Linked DNA regions of Homo sapiens: region 2 is linked to region 1. The links come from fine-mapping of genetic effects on gene expression. A gene starts in region 1. The other region holds a variant in brackets. All regions are shown on one strand. Distances are between the middles of the regions.

Evidence for each region. PIP is the estimated chance that this variant, and not a neighbour inherited with it, causes the effect. A credible set is the group of variants that fine-mapping cannot tell apart.
Region 2: its variant is the best candidate, but not a certain one, in a credible set for the expression of ASB2 in whole blood (TOPMed, PIP 0.74).

The regions. Positions count from the first base shown.
Region 1 is chr14:93,972,017-93,980,016 of GRCh38, forward strand. It overlaps ASB2 (ankyrin repeat and SOCS box containing 2), which reads right to left and starts at 4,554. Exons shown (of 10, transcript NM_001202429.2): 1 at 4,418-4,554. LOC107984663 (a long non-coding RNA gene) reads right to left here. Exons shown (of 4, transcript XR_001750861.2): 4 at 5,409-8,000. RefSeq lists an enhancer at 3,035-3,606.
Region 2 is chr14:93,948,877-93,956,876 of GRCh38, forward strand. ASB2 (ankyrin repeat and SOCS box containing 2) reads right to left here. Exons shown (of 10, transcript NM_001202429.2): 3 at 7,890-7,994; 4 at 5,441-5,607; 5 at 4,476-4,631; 6 at 2,123-2,368. Among named protein-coding and RNA genes, the nearest start is that of MIR4506, 4.6 kb to the left of the region's middle. RefSeq lists enhancers at 5,022-5,999, 6,110-6,816, 6,817-7,521. The variant G/T (reference allele first, on the strand shown) is at 4,443.

The DNA.
Region 1 (8,000 bases):
AATTATATATTTTTATATTAATAATATAATATATATTATATATATAATATACACACATATACATACTTTCTATAAATCTACTCCAAAAGCTTCAAGGTCTCCCAAATATCACATGACCCGTAGCTAAGGCAATCCTGAAACCTGGCTGCTTGGGCTAGCCTGGGGACACACGAGGAGTCAGGAACTGGGCTGTTCCTTGGCACCCAGGGCGCTCGACCTCCTTCCTTGCAATGCTCTCTCCTTCTGCCAAAACTTATCTTTCTGATCTGCCTTTCCCCCCAGGATCCAGGGTGGTCCTAGGAAACCCAAGGAAACGCTTCCAGCTGGAGTGCTCGGAGGTGTAGGACATTGTTCTCTTCCCTTCCCGGGTCCTGTTGTTTTAGAACCTAATCAATAAAAATTAAGCTGGTGCCTGTGGGTCCTTGTCCTGTCTCCATCCAGGCCACTTTCATAGGTTGCCTCATTTTACTTTTTCAGTACTAGGGAGAAGAGTGGTCTTCCCATGGCGCGGATGAGGAGACTAAGGCCTGGAATGTATGTGGTACAGAGGTTGAGACCACGTCAGCCTGCGCCGTCTTCATCAGGCCCTCTGACACAACATTAAGGGCATGGCAAGGAGTCAGTTGCTCCGTGACCCTAAACCTCATCCCTCTGGAGGCTTCATCTCTGCTCTGGCTAAGAAATGCTCTGACCTTGGTAAGGAAGGGGGGATGGAATCCCAGCCACCTTGCCCTTGACCCCTATGAGTGGCCAAGTCGTAGCCAGGGTGGGCCTTTGGCCATGGGGGCAGTGCTCTCAAGCCTCTGGCTGCCCTGGGGCCTGGTGTCTAGGGCCTCACAGCTGCTAGGAGTTTGAGCCTTTGCTCAGACCCACACCATCAGCTAAGGAAAGCACCCACAAAGGCCAAGCTTCCAGTTTACCCCCAGCCACCACCACCACCGGCTGCGTCATCTCAGACCTTTTGATGCTGATTTCAAGCTCCCGGCTTTCGGGTGCCAGGGCCTTGGGGCTTCCAAGGCTGGGCTGGGGCTGCTGGAGGTGACTCAAGAGGTGTGCTCAGGGCTGCAGGCCCCAGCTGACTCCACAAGACAGGGCTCTTCTCTTTGTATGGAGTAGGGGTGTGACTGCCCCTACATAACCCTGTAGGAGGTGACAACCAGGGATTTGAACCTGTCCAAAGCTGGCTCTGCTCCCACGCCAGCAGACACTCTGTGCCCATTGTATAGAGGAGGAGACTGAGGCTGCATCTGAAATGGAGCGCCTCTTGCTGATCCAAATCTTGGTGAATCTCTCCCGAAGAGTCTAAGACCCTAACGAAAAGTCTTGGTAATTTATTTACTTATTGATGTACATTGAGGATGCCACTCCAAAAAGAGAGCAAGAATGATGGTGAGAGGAAGAGAGGGAAGAAGGAAAAACACAGGAAAAACCTCCCTGTAGAAGGTTTTTTGAATGTGGAAAGTGCCCTGTTGCAATGATGAGCATCCATTCTGCACAGGACATGCCCACTACCTGCGGCAGTGCCCACACCACCAGCTAAGAAAAGCACCCACAAAAGTCAAGCTTCCAGTTTACTTCTTTGGGCCCCTGAGCTATTGAGTCTCCAGGCCCATGGGTGACCTTCGTCTCCACCTCCTGAGTGAAGGGCCCTTCTGCTGCCTCCTGGCCCTGCCAGAGGCTGGCCCCTCCCCGCATCTGTGTGGCTCAGACACTCACAGCTCAGGACACAGGATTCCAGGCCCCTGACCCATATTCTGCCCAGGCACTACCAATGCCAGGATCTGCCATCTGTGCCAGTGACCAAAGGTGGGGGTGACAGGGGTGGACGGGGCTGGTCAGTCCACCTCTGAGCCTCCCCAGCACCCCTGCCCTAGCACAGCCCGCCTAGCCCTGTTCTGTCCTTTGGGCAGACAAAGACGGCGGACCCTCACCTTGGTTCCTTAGTGGCAGAAGACACAGGGGGTTCTGGAGGCTTTAACTCCAGGCAGCAGAGCGGGAAGGCTCAGGCAGGGCAGGGGGAATCCTCCATAGCCCCTCCTCACCTGCAGGGCTGGCTGGAAATCTTTTAAGTTAGATCTCACCCAAATCGGCGAGGTTCTTTTTCCTTTTTTATCCTCTCTCCTCTGAGTTCCCCTGACCCCGCCTCCATTTAAATCTTTCTCTTCTCTTTTCTCTGCTTTCCTCTCTCCTTTTTTACTCCTCTATGTCCCATTCTTTTTAAAAAACAGATAGTTTAGGAATTTCAATTTACCTTTATTTCAGCACCACCTCCCCAAAAACATTCCTCCCAACCACAAAGCTCTTAATAACTTCATTTATATTCCTGGGCGTTAATTATTCCAAACAATGGTGCTAAGGAAAGAGAACCACAGACACAAGCCACTCCTGTGACAGCTGGCTCCTGTGGGCAGCCTGATCCTCTGCAGCGCAGAAATGGAAGGACACTGGGCAGGCCCAGAGATATTTTTGTGCCTCCTTTGGGAAGGCTCTTTGGATCTAGCCTGTCCACAATATACGGGCACCTTATGATGCCTTGAGTGTGCCAGAGACATTTCCCCTGGGTGCACGATGGTCCTGTTTACCACTGCCACAGTACCTTGAGAGGCCACAGGACGCTGTGGCTTTGAATGTGGACCTTGCAGACCAAAAGGTCAGATTCCTGACTCCAACACTTGCAGCCGTCCAGCCTTAAGCAAGACTTTTAAGCTCTCATAACCTGTTTCCAGACCTGAAAATGGGAGTAACGATCACCTGTAACTCATGGTAGCCTTGACCGAAGTCAGTGAGAGAAATCTGCACACAAGCTTGGGCCAGTGCTCAACAAAGGCTTGCTGGTATGGCCTGTGTTGTTGTTCACTGTGAGGTCACCGTGCGTGGGTTAGACAGTGTCCCCCACCCCCGCCACCACAAGGCACTCATGACCCGGCCTGTTTGTGCAAGAACAGATGATGCAAACCAGCATGGCACCCAGCGGAGCTGCTGCCAGCTTCTTGGGGACGCTGTGCAGCACATGGGCCTGCCACCAGCTGTCAGGACCCGTCCAACTGTTTTGGAAGTGCCTCGAGCATCTGCCACTGTCTGCCTCATGGTGCTTCTGCCCAGGCAGAGGTCAGGGCTGTGGCGGGGGTGCTGGCCCCAGCTGGCTCTGCCTGCGTCCCTCTGAGCCCCCTCAAGCCCTCGCCTCACGAAACAAGCTTATCTTCAGAAGAGCATTCCTGTCCTGTGCAGGGGCTCAGCTTCTGCCCTGCTTCAGGCCTTCCTCATTTACCTGCCCTCCCTAGGAGTCACCAGCCTCCTTGCCTCCTCATTCCAGTGCATACCCCTGGCTTCCCGAAGAGCCACCGAAGCCAAATCTCACATCCTCCAAGGGGAATGGGCCACTGAAATGAAAATGATTCTCCACCTAGAGGCACCAGAAACCAAGTCATGTTTCTGGGCCTCCACCTCTGGGGCCTGAGATGTGAACACACGGGTGGGAGTGTAGGTGCCTGGCTGTGTCCCTTCATATCCCAGATGCTCAATGCATGTGGCTATGTGCATGCCGTCCTCTGCTCAAAAACTCTCAGAAAGTGTTCCAACTTCTTGCTTGGCCTGGAAGGATGTGCCTCTCCCTCTGGCCTCCCCTTCTAGCCTCACCCCCATTTTTCACATGCAGAACCCTTTGCCAGAGCCACATTTCACTTTCCATCATCACCCCAGGTCCCTTGACTTCCCTGCCTTTGCCCAAGCTGCTCCTCCACCTGGAGGTCTCTGTTTCCACCCTGAGGCATCCCACCCATCCTTTCAAAGGCCATGGCCTCCTTAAATGTGTCATGCATATGCGTGTGCACACACATGCATGGTATTCTTGCATCCCTGCATTCCACAGCTTTGTTGGATCTCACATAAATAACATTCCTCCATTTCCTCTCCTAATCCCCAAACAGTTGAAAGCAGAGCACATGGCACCTTGGCTGCTATGGTCTCCCACAATACCGTGCATGCCTAGGCACTCTGCAACAGCTACATTAAATTAACTCCCACTCATGAAAACCTCTATCTGTGCGCCTGGCCTGAAAGCATTTCTGAAAGTCACTTGTCTGACACAGATACCGCCCAAGACCTACAGACCCAACAATAGCATCATTGATAAGTCCTTTTGCATTTCCATTTTTAGAAGTGCACAGCAGAGTGATATTCTGAGCCAGAGTCCTCCAGAAGAATGGGTAAGTACATGCAAATTGCTGAGTCTCTGTTCATTGCATCCAAAACGAAAGTCACCAGCGTGCTGTATAACTCAAGAAAATACGAGAGAGAGGGAAAAGCAACATCACAGTTTGACTACAAGCGGTTTCCAGTAAGTACTGCAGCCGAAAATCCCCACCAGCCAAAGAATCTTTTGCAAGATCTGTATAAGAAAGTTGAAAGCATGCATTACCTGTTAGGCTCTGAAACAAGGGTACAATTCAGGGGTAATACAAAGGATTTTCTTGAAAGTGTCTTAATTCAGAACATGCTCCCCGAGTTTTCCTTCTGCCCTGGCCCCAAGCTTCTGGCTGCTCTGCCAGGCAGTTCTGAAACGCTGTCCTTTGAAGCAGGGAGTTTATTTTGGGGCCACCGCATGACCAACGTTGACAAGCCAAACTATAAGATGTTATACATCTCAGATTTCCTGTTTGGAGGTTGCACTGAGGAAGCTGCAATCCTGCCTTCCGTTCCTCCGGGTGCATCGAATACAGACTCTCACTTCAGAGAGGATCCCGGAGCTTTGGCCCTCACGTGATGTCATCATTTGTGATCCTTGACATGGAGGCCATATATGGGTATGTTTCTGGAACTACCCAGGGGAGAGCCAGACAGGAGAGAGATGCAGTGGGTCAGAGACAGAGGCAGGGAACGAGGACGAGGAGACGCATAGTTGGGAGACAAAGAGTGAGGAGCAAGGGAGGAGGAAGAAAGGGGAAGAGGAGAAGTAAAGGCAACAAAGGAGGGAAGGCAAGACAGCAGGAAGGAAGAGGATGGAGTGAAAGAGAAGGGAAGAAGGGGAGAGAGGAGATGAAGGAGTTGACGTAAAAGGGCTTTGGAGAAATCAAGGTTTGGTGCTGAGCTTGTGGCAGCATTTGGGGATAGCAGGTGTCTGGCTGCTGGATACTGTGGGGTGGGGCTGGGGATACAAAGGGCCAGGGTACAAATGAGCCAACAAACAAACACAGAGGCATGCGGGCAAGCCCTGGGCAGAGATATACAACAGAAGAGAGCCCTTCCTCCTGGTCTAGGGAAGAACGTCCCATTTCTGGAATAGGTCAAATGTCAAAGACAACACATACACAGCCACATGCACTGAGCATCCGGGATGTGACAGGACATGGCCAGGCACCTACTCTCCCACCCGTGTGTTCACATCTCATGCCTCAGAGTTAGGGGTCCAGAAACATGACTTGGTCTGTTCCTCTAAGGGGAGAATCATTTTTGTTTCAGTGGCCCATTCCCCTTGGAGGATGTGGATTTATGATGGCCACAGCATGATTTCTCACTGATTCAAACTCAGGAAACCTCAGGATGCCTTTACACGCACTTCGAATATTCCACAAGGAAATACATCTCAGTATACAAGGTGCCACGGGGTTGAGTCAAGGTTCTGGAGGTCTGACTGGTGCTAAAGATGGGAAGGACACCAGTGGTCCCCAGGCAGTCCCCCAGCTTCCCTGGTACCTGCCAAATTGCTCATCACCCCAGCTGGGTCAGTCTTCCCAGGCCACTGTGGCTGGGTGGCCCTCAAAGTTAGCTCAAGTTCAGCCCCTTCCAGACCCATGTGCTATGGAGGGAGTGTAGGAGAAGGGCAGAGAAGGGGCTGTCAGATTCTTTTTACTTTTTGGAGACTCTGCTACCCAGTAGGATGTTCCCCGAGAGACGTCTCTGTGGGACGGCTCCCCGAGGCCGGGCTGCTTTCCTGGGCTCCTTGCTGGAGGCAAAACACAGGTTCCTCTACTTCCTGCCCACCACCTGCCCCTTCCCAATCTGACCTGGAAGGTGGGCTGTGGCCAGGCCAGGCCCCTCCTAGGTTGCCCTCTGCCTCATGGGCATGCACACATGCACACACACACACACACATACACACCCCAAACTCCATCCAAGATGTGTCTATTCCTTCCCTCCCCTTGAATATGGGGTGGCCTAGTGATGGACTTAACAATAGAATGCAGTGGAAATGATGTCCTGAGACTTCCAAGGCTAGGTCATGAGATGCTTTGTAGCTGCCATGTTGTGAGGAAGTCCAAGCAAGCAACACCCAGGGCCCCCAGAGCATCTAGCACCAGGCAGAGGGGTGAAGACACCCTCTCGGAGGTGGATCCTTCACCTGCAGCTGCCACAGCTAATGCCACGTGGAGCAGAGACAAACCACCCACAACTTCCTGACCCATAAACCACAAGCTATGATAAAAGGATTGTTTCGTGCCACTGGGGATTGAGGTAGTTTGATATGTAGTAATAATCAACCCAGACACTCACCAAATATTCACTGCGGTCTCAGCTGCATGCTCCTCAGCTCTCGTGTGCTACCCGTGAACTTTTTTCTGACTTTCCACTTGTCTTTGTTTCCATTTAAAAGAAGAAAAACAGATTCAAACTAAATTTTTTTTTACCTCACTCTTTACAAAAGAATGTAGTCCCAAGTCATTTCCCAGTTCTTGGGTTTATCAGACCAGAAGCTCCTTTTGGCTGAGATTCTGTCTTACAGGGGAATTGTGGTCCCTCTAACTGGAGGGACTCTTGGCTATCCTGGTGTTCAGAGCCCTCATTTACTAGTTCAGGCCCCAAGAGGTTCTGTGCCTTCTCTGAGATCACCTGGCAATTTGGGGGCAGAATAATTCACACATTGAAAGCCATGCCAGTGGGAACCATGCCCCATGGGATCAGACGCTGATGTCCTAAAGCACAGACACTCTCCTGACAAAGGCAGGGACAGCGTTCAAGCATCTGACTCGAGCCTGTGGAGGGCAGGCAGTGTGACCCAGAGGAAAGAGAACTGTGCTGGGATCTGGCCCTAGCTGCTCATTAGAATCATATTACACTTACCTATGCCTGCCCCACCCCAGAGATTCTGATTTAAATAATCTGTGTCGAGGCCCAAACAGGACTGATTTTTAAAAACTTTTTATTAAAGTTCAGTATACCCACAAAAAAGTGCAACTTTCACATATGTACAGCCCAGTACATTTTCACAGACTGGACACACCCAACATCTGAATATTACAAGCACCTCAAGAGCTCCCACCACCCACCACCTCCTGCCAGGGGTGACCACTCTCCTGACTGCTAGCAGGACAGGTTCCTTTGAACTTCATGTGAATGAAATCATTGCGTCTCGTTTCATTTAACAACACATTGCGAGACCTGCCCATATTGTTTCATGGAGTTGTAGATTGTTATTTTAATTGCTGTGTAGTATTCCATGCTATGAATATATCACAATTTATTCATTCTACTGTTGATGGACATCTGGGTGGTTCCCAGTTTTGGGCGATGATGAAGAGTGTAGCTATGAACATTCTAGTACATGTCTTTTGGTAAATATTCATACTCCTTTCTCTTGGGTATACACCTAGGATGGGGATCACTGGGTCAGAGTTTAGGTCTTCTTTCAACTTGAGTGAAACTGTCACATGGCTTTCCAAAGTTGTGTCAGTTTGCACTCCCATCAACCAGGCATAAGAGTTCCAGTCACTCTATATCCTTACCAACAATTGGTAGATTCCATCTTTTTTCTTTTTTTTTTTGAGATGGAGTCCTGCTCTGTTGCCCAGGCTGAAGCGCAGTGGTGAGATCTCGACTCACTGCAACCTCCACCTTCTGGATTCAAGCGATTCTCTTGCCTCGGCCTCCCAAGTAGCTAGGATTACAGGTGCCCACCACCACGCCCAGCTATTTTTTTTGTATTTTTAGTAGAGATGGGGTTTCACCATGTTGGCCAGGCTGGTATCGAACTCCTGACCTCAGGTGATCTGCCCGCTTCAGCCTCC
Region 2 (8,000 bases), 23 kb before region 1:
CGGCAGTGAGCCGGGATCACACCACTGCACTCCAGCCTGGACAACAAAGTGAGACCCTGTTCCCAAAACAAAAACAAAACAAAACCCAGAAAACATTAATCCATGCTGCTAGAAGGAGGAATCAGGCCTGGTGACAATCTGCCTTCAGCTCAGTCTTCTACACCTGCTTCATCTCCTCGGGCAGGGGGTGAGGGGGAGAACTGATGTGCACACAGCTTTCTCTGCAGAAAGAGAATTCAGCAGTCCTTCCTTGTTCTGGAAGGACATGGAACTAAGATGCTTGAAGATGTCAGTGGGGCTAAAATCAAAAGCATCTGCTAACCACAGGTCATCTCTCTAAGCATGTTGCTGATCTCAGGCTTTCTGGTAATTTATTATTTTTGATGATGGTGTGACCAGTTTCTGATCCAGCGGAAACAGCACAGGCTTTGGCGACAGATGAGAATCAGCTGAGGCATCTGTTTCATGGCTCACAAGCTCTGCAGTCTCAGAAAGCCTTTAGGAGCCTCGGTTTTCTCATCTGTTGACCAGGGATAATAGTACCTACCCCTCGGGGTTACTGCAGGGAGTAAACAAAATAGTGTAAGCACATCTCTCAGCGCAGTGCCTGCCACAGGGAAGCTGCTCAGCAAATGCCAGTTGCTCAGGATGGAAGGAGCTGGGCAGAGGCCTTCGTCCTGCCTCCGGCCTGAGGGAGAGCCAGTGAGCCGCCCTAACCCTCTGTTGGGCTCTCAGAGGCAGGTGCCCTGGAGAGCCTGGACCCTACCAGCAAAGCCGCCTGCTTGCACAAGAAAAATATTTGGGTTGGAAAATGGACTCAGCCCACAAAGTGAACACACCCTGACTCAGAGTGTCGGTGGGAGACCTGGACAGATGTTTGGAGTTATTGAGGTCACCCTTGCCTGCTGAGCATGCTGTCCGTCACCAGGACCCCCGGCCTGGGCTCCCAGGACCCTGCCTGTGCCCCTTTGTTCTTACGCTGGGCAGTCCAGATTTGTTCCTGGCTGCACGGAAGGGCCTGCACCTATGTTCCCCACTGCTCAGGCGCGTGCTGAGTGCATGGATGCTTACCTGGGCAGAGTCCCGTGCTGCCGACTCTCACAGGGTAGGGTGGCTGGCAGAGCACAAAGCATGTGCAGTTTGGAGTCAGATGGCAGTGGGTCAGCATCCAGGCTTGGACTGTGACCAATTAGTTAACCTCTCTGAACCTCAGTCTCTTCATCTATAAAATGGGACGAGCATACTACCTACCACATGGGGCTACGGGGAAAGCTCCATTGCCCCGATCTGTGTTCACACTTAGCAAGTCCTCAACAGATTCCTACAGTTCAGCCTCAGCGTCTGGATTACCTCTGGCTTCTCTGTTGCTAGAGAGAGGGTTACTTCCCGTGGAGAGAGAAAAGAAATCAAAGGCATTCTTGGGGAAGATCAGGATATAATGTTCTGAAACCAAAAGCAAGTCTGCCATGTCTCGTGGTCTTTTGCTACTGGGCCATCATAATGCAGGCCGTATTGTGTTATTTTCTCCCATTAAGATATTTCACAGGCAAAGAGGGCAAAGAGCTGGGTTCAAGTCCCAGCTCTGCCACTAATTTGCTGTGTGACCTTGGACAAATCACTTTCCCATCCTGGTCCTTGAGTTCATCACCCATAAAAGGGGGAGGTGATCTAAATGTTGCTTGAGGTTCCTTCTGGCCCTGAAGTGTGATGTGGTGGAAAGAGAAGCGGTTGGGGTGTCAGGAGACCAAGAGTCTAGCTAGTTCTACAATTAATTTGCTATAGGACTATAGATAAGTCACTTCCTCACTCTGTGCCTCAGACTCCTCGTTTGTAAAATGAAAATGTTGGACTAGATTATAAATGGCAAATAGGTGGTCCGTGGGCCAGACCCCCCCATATTTGTTCTAATGGCAGATGTCACTAGTGGATCCCGACGCTCTTCCCACTGAGCCTGGACACAGCCTCAGCATCTTTCTCAACACAGCACTCTAGGAGGAAACTCTCACTCCATCAGTGTGCGCACAAGATGACCCCTAACTCGCCTTCCCTTAGAGCTGACCTCTGACATCCTTCCCGTGTGCCCTTTGGGGACTCCATGACCTAGGGACCCTTAGCCACTCACCGTACTTGGCTAAGAACCTCAAGGCCTCCAACTGTCCACTCTGGGCGGCCACGAACAAGGGGGTGATGCCGTAGGCGTTCTTGGATTCCACCTTGGCTCCTCCGCTCACCAGGATCTGCATGACCTCCAGGTCATTGCGAGACACAGACTCGTGCAGAGCGGTCCAGCCGCGGTTGCAGCGGTGGTTGGTGTCTGCATTGTGCTGCACCAGAATCTTCACGGCCTCCGCGTTCTTGCGCTCGCAGGCTGTGCTCAGGGGGAAGCAGGGATGGTCAGCAGGGCCTGGCAGGAACTGGCCAGCAGAGACTGCATTCATTCGCCTGTCCATTCACTCATCCACTCATTCAGCTTTCCACTGCATGTGTATTAAGTTCCAATCCCTGCATTGAACCTGGGATAGGCGACTAAAAGTAATACTGATACTAACATTAGCAAGAATACTTGCTGATTCATATGCCTAGTACTGGTTCTGTGCCAGGCTCTCTGTTCTAAGCACATTTTACAGGATTAACTAATTTAATCCTCCCAAATCCCCTTAAAGGATGTAGTGATGTTATCCCCTTTCACAGATAAGGAAGGTGAGGCACAGAGAGGGTAAGTGGCTTGCCCAAAGTCACACAGATACTAAGTGGCAGAACTGGAATTCAAACCCTGGTAGTCAGGCTGAAGGTCTCTGTCCCCTGGGATGTCCCAGGATGTCCCTATCATTTCCCCTTCCAGTGGTACCTGCTTCAGTCCTCCACATTACCAAGGCTGGAAGAATCTTTCTAGATGAGGAGTCAGCGGTGTCATAATCCTGCTGAACTTCCCCCTGCTCCAGCAAAGGCTACTAATTTAGTTCAGGGTAAAATGCACGTTGTGAGTACAGCTCCTCAAGTCTTTCTTGACCTGCTCTAACCTCCTTTATAAGCCTCATCTCTCTCTAGACCCCAAACGTGCCCTTGGCTCTGGCCCCAGAGTTCTCACCAGGAGCTGCAGGTGGTATTGGAGTCACCTGGGCACTTTTCCAAATTAACCAGCCCTGGAAGCTTCTCTGTGTCCGTGTCAGTGGGAGGAGGAGTGAGGAATGGGTCAGGGAGACTGGCAGCAGGGGGAGGAGGGCTGCCTGTGTACTGTTTCAAATAGAACCATAGGCCAAGCCTTCTACCTCTCTAAGCCTTGACTTTCTCATCTGTAAAATGGAGAGAATAAAACCTTCTTGAGCAGATGCTATGGGAGTGAGACTGTGTGTAAGGCATGAGCATAGTGCTTGGCACATAGTAGGTGTGCTTGCAAGACCAGGGCCAAGCTCTGGCTGTGGGCTGCCCAGCTTCCTGGGCACTCCCTTTGGACAGCTGAGGTTCCAGGTGATAGCCATGGCGCCCTGGCAGGCACGGATTCCAGGGAAGACACTTCCATGGTGGGTCTGCAGCGGATCCAGTGACCTACTACTCAGTTCCTGCTGCCCAAGCTGTTCCAAGCACTGGATAGACACATGGGAAATCAGGGATATCTGTAATTTTTCCAAGTACAAAGGCCTGATCATTTGTAAGACCCCAGCTGATTGCTTCAGCATGTAGGCATGGACAGGATGCTTTAGAATGTAGTAGTTGAGGGCAGTGTGACATCCACCTCCCTGAGTTTAAACCACTGGGGTACCCCTTGCAAGCTGTGTGATCCTGGGCGACCCATTTAATGTCTTGGTGCCTTAGGTCCTCATATGTGAAAGGGGATACCAGCAGTGCCTACTTCATGTGCAGATGGACATGAGGGGTCCATAAGAGAACGGTGCCTGGCACATACTAAACACTCAATCAATGCTAGCTATTGTGATTATTTAGACTTTGACTCTGGGTACTGCTAGGGCAGCCAACAAATGTCCATGGATGATGTACTGAGTAAGCCAGGAGGCCTTGTTTTTCTTAAACAAATGTCCCAGAGGTACATGCTCTCGCATACCTTCATGCCTTTGCCTGTGCGGTTCCCGCTGCTTGGCCAGCAGGTGATTCCTCCTCTGTGGTTCAGCTCAGGCACCCCTCCTCTGGGTGCCCCTCCCCCATGCTCCCACAATGCCTCCTGCCAAGCCCTTTCCTGCTCTCTGTGTGTGGGTGCCTACAGGGCTGGGAGGGTGCACAGGTTGGACTATAGCTTTTCAGCTCCAAGCCCTCAGTGTCCCTCAGCATCCTGGCCCATGGGATGCAGTTGGAAAATGTTGGTAAAATACATGCAGGAATGAATGATTCAGTTACATAAATTGTGCATTTGAGCAGGGCCACGTTGGGGGTTATGCACTTAACGGGAGCAACATTCCCTGTTGCTCACCCAGCTTCTGGATTCTTCC[G/T]CAGGAAAGCTCACTCCGGGGTGGGGACCTCACCTTTGTAGAGCGGTGTCTCTCGGGATTTGTTGGAGATGTCCGGCTCTGCCCCTGCTTGGAGCAGTGACAGGAGACAGTCCAGGTGGCCCCTGCACGTTGCCAAGTAAACGGCTGTTTCCTCCTGCAGGGTGCGCTGGTCGATGGTCCCTGGGTACGCTAGGGAGGGCCCACCGGGAAATTCATGTAGGAGAAAGATACTCAGCCCCGCAACACAGAGGCTTTCCCGATTGCCTCCCAATTTCAAGAACAATGTATGACATCCTCTGAAATTTACCAACTACAGACTGCATTCATCTGGCCCTTTCACAGGGCCATTTTAGCTTCCTGGTCGTACACGTCCAAGCTCAGATGCCACGTCCTCTGAGAAGCCTTCCCTAATGGAGCCCCTCCCTCTTCGAATACTCCTGTCCTTTCCTCGAACTCACACCAGCCATTGCTGGAAACCCACTGTTACATGCCATGGTTTCTTGGAGTGTCGGGGGCCGTGTGGGGTCTGTGCTGCTTCAGGGCAGAGGTGACACCTGCCTGCAGGAGTTGCCCTTCTGAACCTGGCTCAGTAGGAAGACAGGGCTCAGAGAGGAGGCACGGCTGTCCCGCGGTCCCACAGCAGGTGGGGGATAGCCTTGGCCGGGCACAGGCACAGCTGCAGTATTTTTCACACCAAATCAGCCCCTGGGACATTCTGGAACAAGTTGGCAGTGGTTCTTCTAAAAGTCAGCCCTCCCTCATTCCTTTTCTAGGAATTAGGCTCTCCTGTCCTTGGAGGCCTGGAGAGGTGGCAGCAGGGGGTGGGGACAACTCATTTCCCCTCTCGTAACTCCATGACTAACTGACAAATGAAAGTGACAGCCTTGCCTGCCCTTCTCCCAAGATGATTGTGGGCAAAGAACATGAAGCCCCAGGAGCGGCAGCCCTTCCCCTAGTCCCTTTCCCACCTCTTGCCACCGTCAGAGCCCAGCCCTCACCTCGCTGCAGGACTTTCAGGCAGCCCACCTGGCCATAGTATGCGGCCTCGTGCAGCGGCAGCCAGCCCTCCTTGTTGGGCTCTGCGAGATTCTTCCCTTCCTTGATCATGGTCTTCAAGGCCTCTTCATCGCCATCCTTGATGGCCTTTATCAAGGGGTCCGCAGGCCTGTGAGAGGAAGGAGTGGGTCAGTCCTCAAGGTCAGGCCAAGGCCAGGCCAGGGGGCCTCTCTCTCAGGAGTGCTGGCAGTGGAGTCACTCGGTCCTCGTCCCTGCTGGTTCCAGGATGAGCACTCAGCCCCCTGCAGCCCAGTGGCTGCAAGAGGACTGGGGGATCCCTCCATCTCTGTGGCTTTCCATGGCTGCCGGGAATGTTATACCAAAACCAATTCTACCAAGAGGATTCAGGCACACAATGCCAGCCTCCTAGAGGGTGGCTAACCACCCACATGTGAGGCACTTGTGATAATTAAATGCTTTCCCTGAGTATAGCACTCTAGCATTTACCAGGCACGCCCATCTCGGGGGCCCCCTCTTAACCCTGAGCATATCTCTGGGGTCTTCCAACTCCTCTCCTTGCCCTGTCGCTTATTCCTACTCCCAGTACATCCAGCTGCAGAAAAAAAATATATACTGGAAGGATTAATAAATTTGAAGCCTTCACAGTTTAAAACTTCTGAATGTCAAAAAGATTTGAGGGCTAAAGTGAAGCCGTTCCTTGCTTGGCTTGTTAAAGTCCCTTTGTTCATTCATTGCTTCCTTCCTTCCTTCATTCATTCACTGAGCTCCCTACCTCATCCTTGGAGAGTCCGTGAGAACCACGATGTCTATGCCTCTCAGATCCACTTTTGGGGAGGCTTCTGCATCAATAGTCCCATTTCCCAGATGGAGAAGGTGAGGCTGGAGGCAGGCCTCATTCCCAGGACACCCACGCCATGTTGGGCTAGGATGGGCTCTGGGCGGTCTCTGCCACCAGCCCCTGCACTCTCCCAGCCACTTCCTCCAGCGTGAGCAGCACTTCCTCCTGACTCTCAGACTCTGTGGTTATTAATGGTGTCAGAGCACAGATGCCGGTGAAGCAACAGACCCAGCAAGGACGATGGGAAACTGATCAGATAAGTCCTGAGGTCCCCATCAGCACCGTCACTGCCACCTTGACGAGTTCCACTTAGGAACAGCCAGAGCAGCCCCTGTCAGCATCAGGAAAAGCCCAGTGGGGGTATGTGCCCCCCTTTTCCTGGAGTGTCTCCAAAGGGACCCCAGCTGAAGTGGAAGGGAGGAGGGCTGGCTTTTCTCGTGGCCTTGGCGAGCAGGGCGTGGTGCAGTGTCGTGAGAACACTTTCAGGACCTGCCGCCCAGCTTGGGTCTCTCCAGCTGTGATGCAAGGACCCTGGAGCCCTCAGCCCACATATTCACAGCTTCTCCATGACCTCAGGCAAAGTCCCCGCCCTATGAGTGGGGGAGGGTTCTGGGGGTGTCAGGCCATCAGAGTAGTAAGCTGGACGGGACCCTAGAGGTCACGTTGCCCTCTCCAGCCGTGTCCTGCAGAGAAGGGAGACTCAGAGGGGACAGCGACTCTCAGGCAGTCATGCAGGAGGTGGCAGTAGCTGAGACCAGCTCTGGGTCTCCCTTTTCCAGATTGTCAACCACTCCACACACCCACCACACCAAGGAAGTGGAGGGCGACAGGATTTGAAAAAGGCTGGGAAGGAGAAAGAAAATATTGGCCAATTGCCTCCTCCCTTCTCTACAACGTAACTGAGTGAGGAAATGCAGTTCCAGTGATAGGGTCCCTCTTTTGCTTTTGGCTGCTTCCGGGGTCACTATTCCAGGGGTACAGAGAGGGGAGGGAGGCAGAATTATTTTCTAAGGAGCGCATTAGCCCTGCCCCCTGGTGCCAGGCAAACAGAGCCCCTGCAGCTTAGATTATTTCTGGATTTTAGCACCTGGCACTTCACAAATAAGGGCAAATAAACAAAACAAAGGCTGTGGGTGTGGGCATTTTGGATGTACCCACAGCGATGGCATGGGGGAAAGTGAGACTGGGACAAACAGAAGGGTGCAGCCAACTCATCAAGTTCAACTCCAAGCTCTCCTGGGCCTCTGGGGTTCTAAGGCCATCTCCCCAATTTCCCTCGTGCTGGGTCCCCAGTTTCAGAGCCCCATGGGGCTCCTCCAGCACTCAGGTCCCATGCTGGGGGCATCTGAGGGGGGGATCACCAGCATGCCTGGCTGGAAGTTCCTTGAGGACTGAAGTCTGTGGCCACCAAGCCCATCTCAGCAGGAGCAGTGGGGCCCCAGGGGGGCACCCCTAGAAGGAGCGTGCCTGGCAGGTGCCTCCATAGTGCCCTCTGCCCTCCTGGGGGCTGTGGGCCTGCTTCCCACCCTCCCTGCCATCCCAGTTAGCGGAGTGAACTTGGATGGTCCTGGGGCCAGACAGGAGTCACTTACGCCAGCTGGGAGGTCTTGAACAAGCTGCTGCTGTATTTCTGCATGACCCCTTGGAACAAGCCCATTGGGGCCCGGGCCGGCGAACTCTCAGGAGGTGCAGTGGACCTGGAG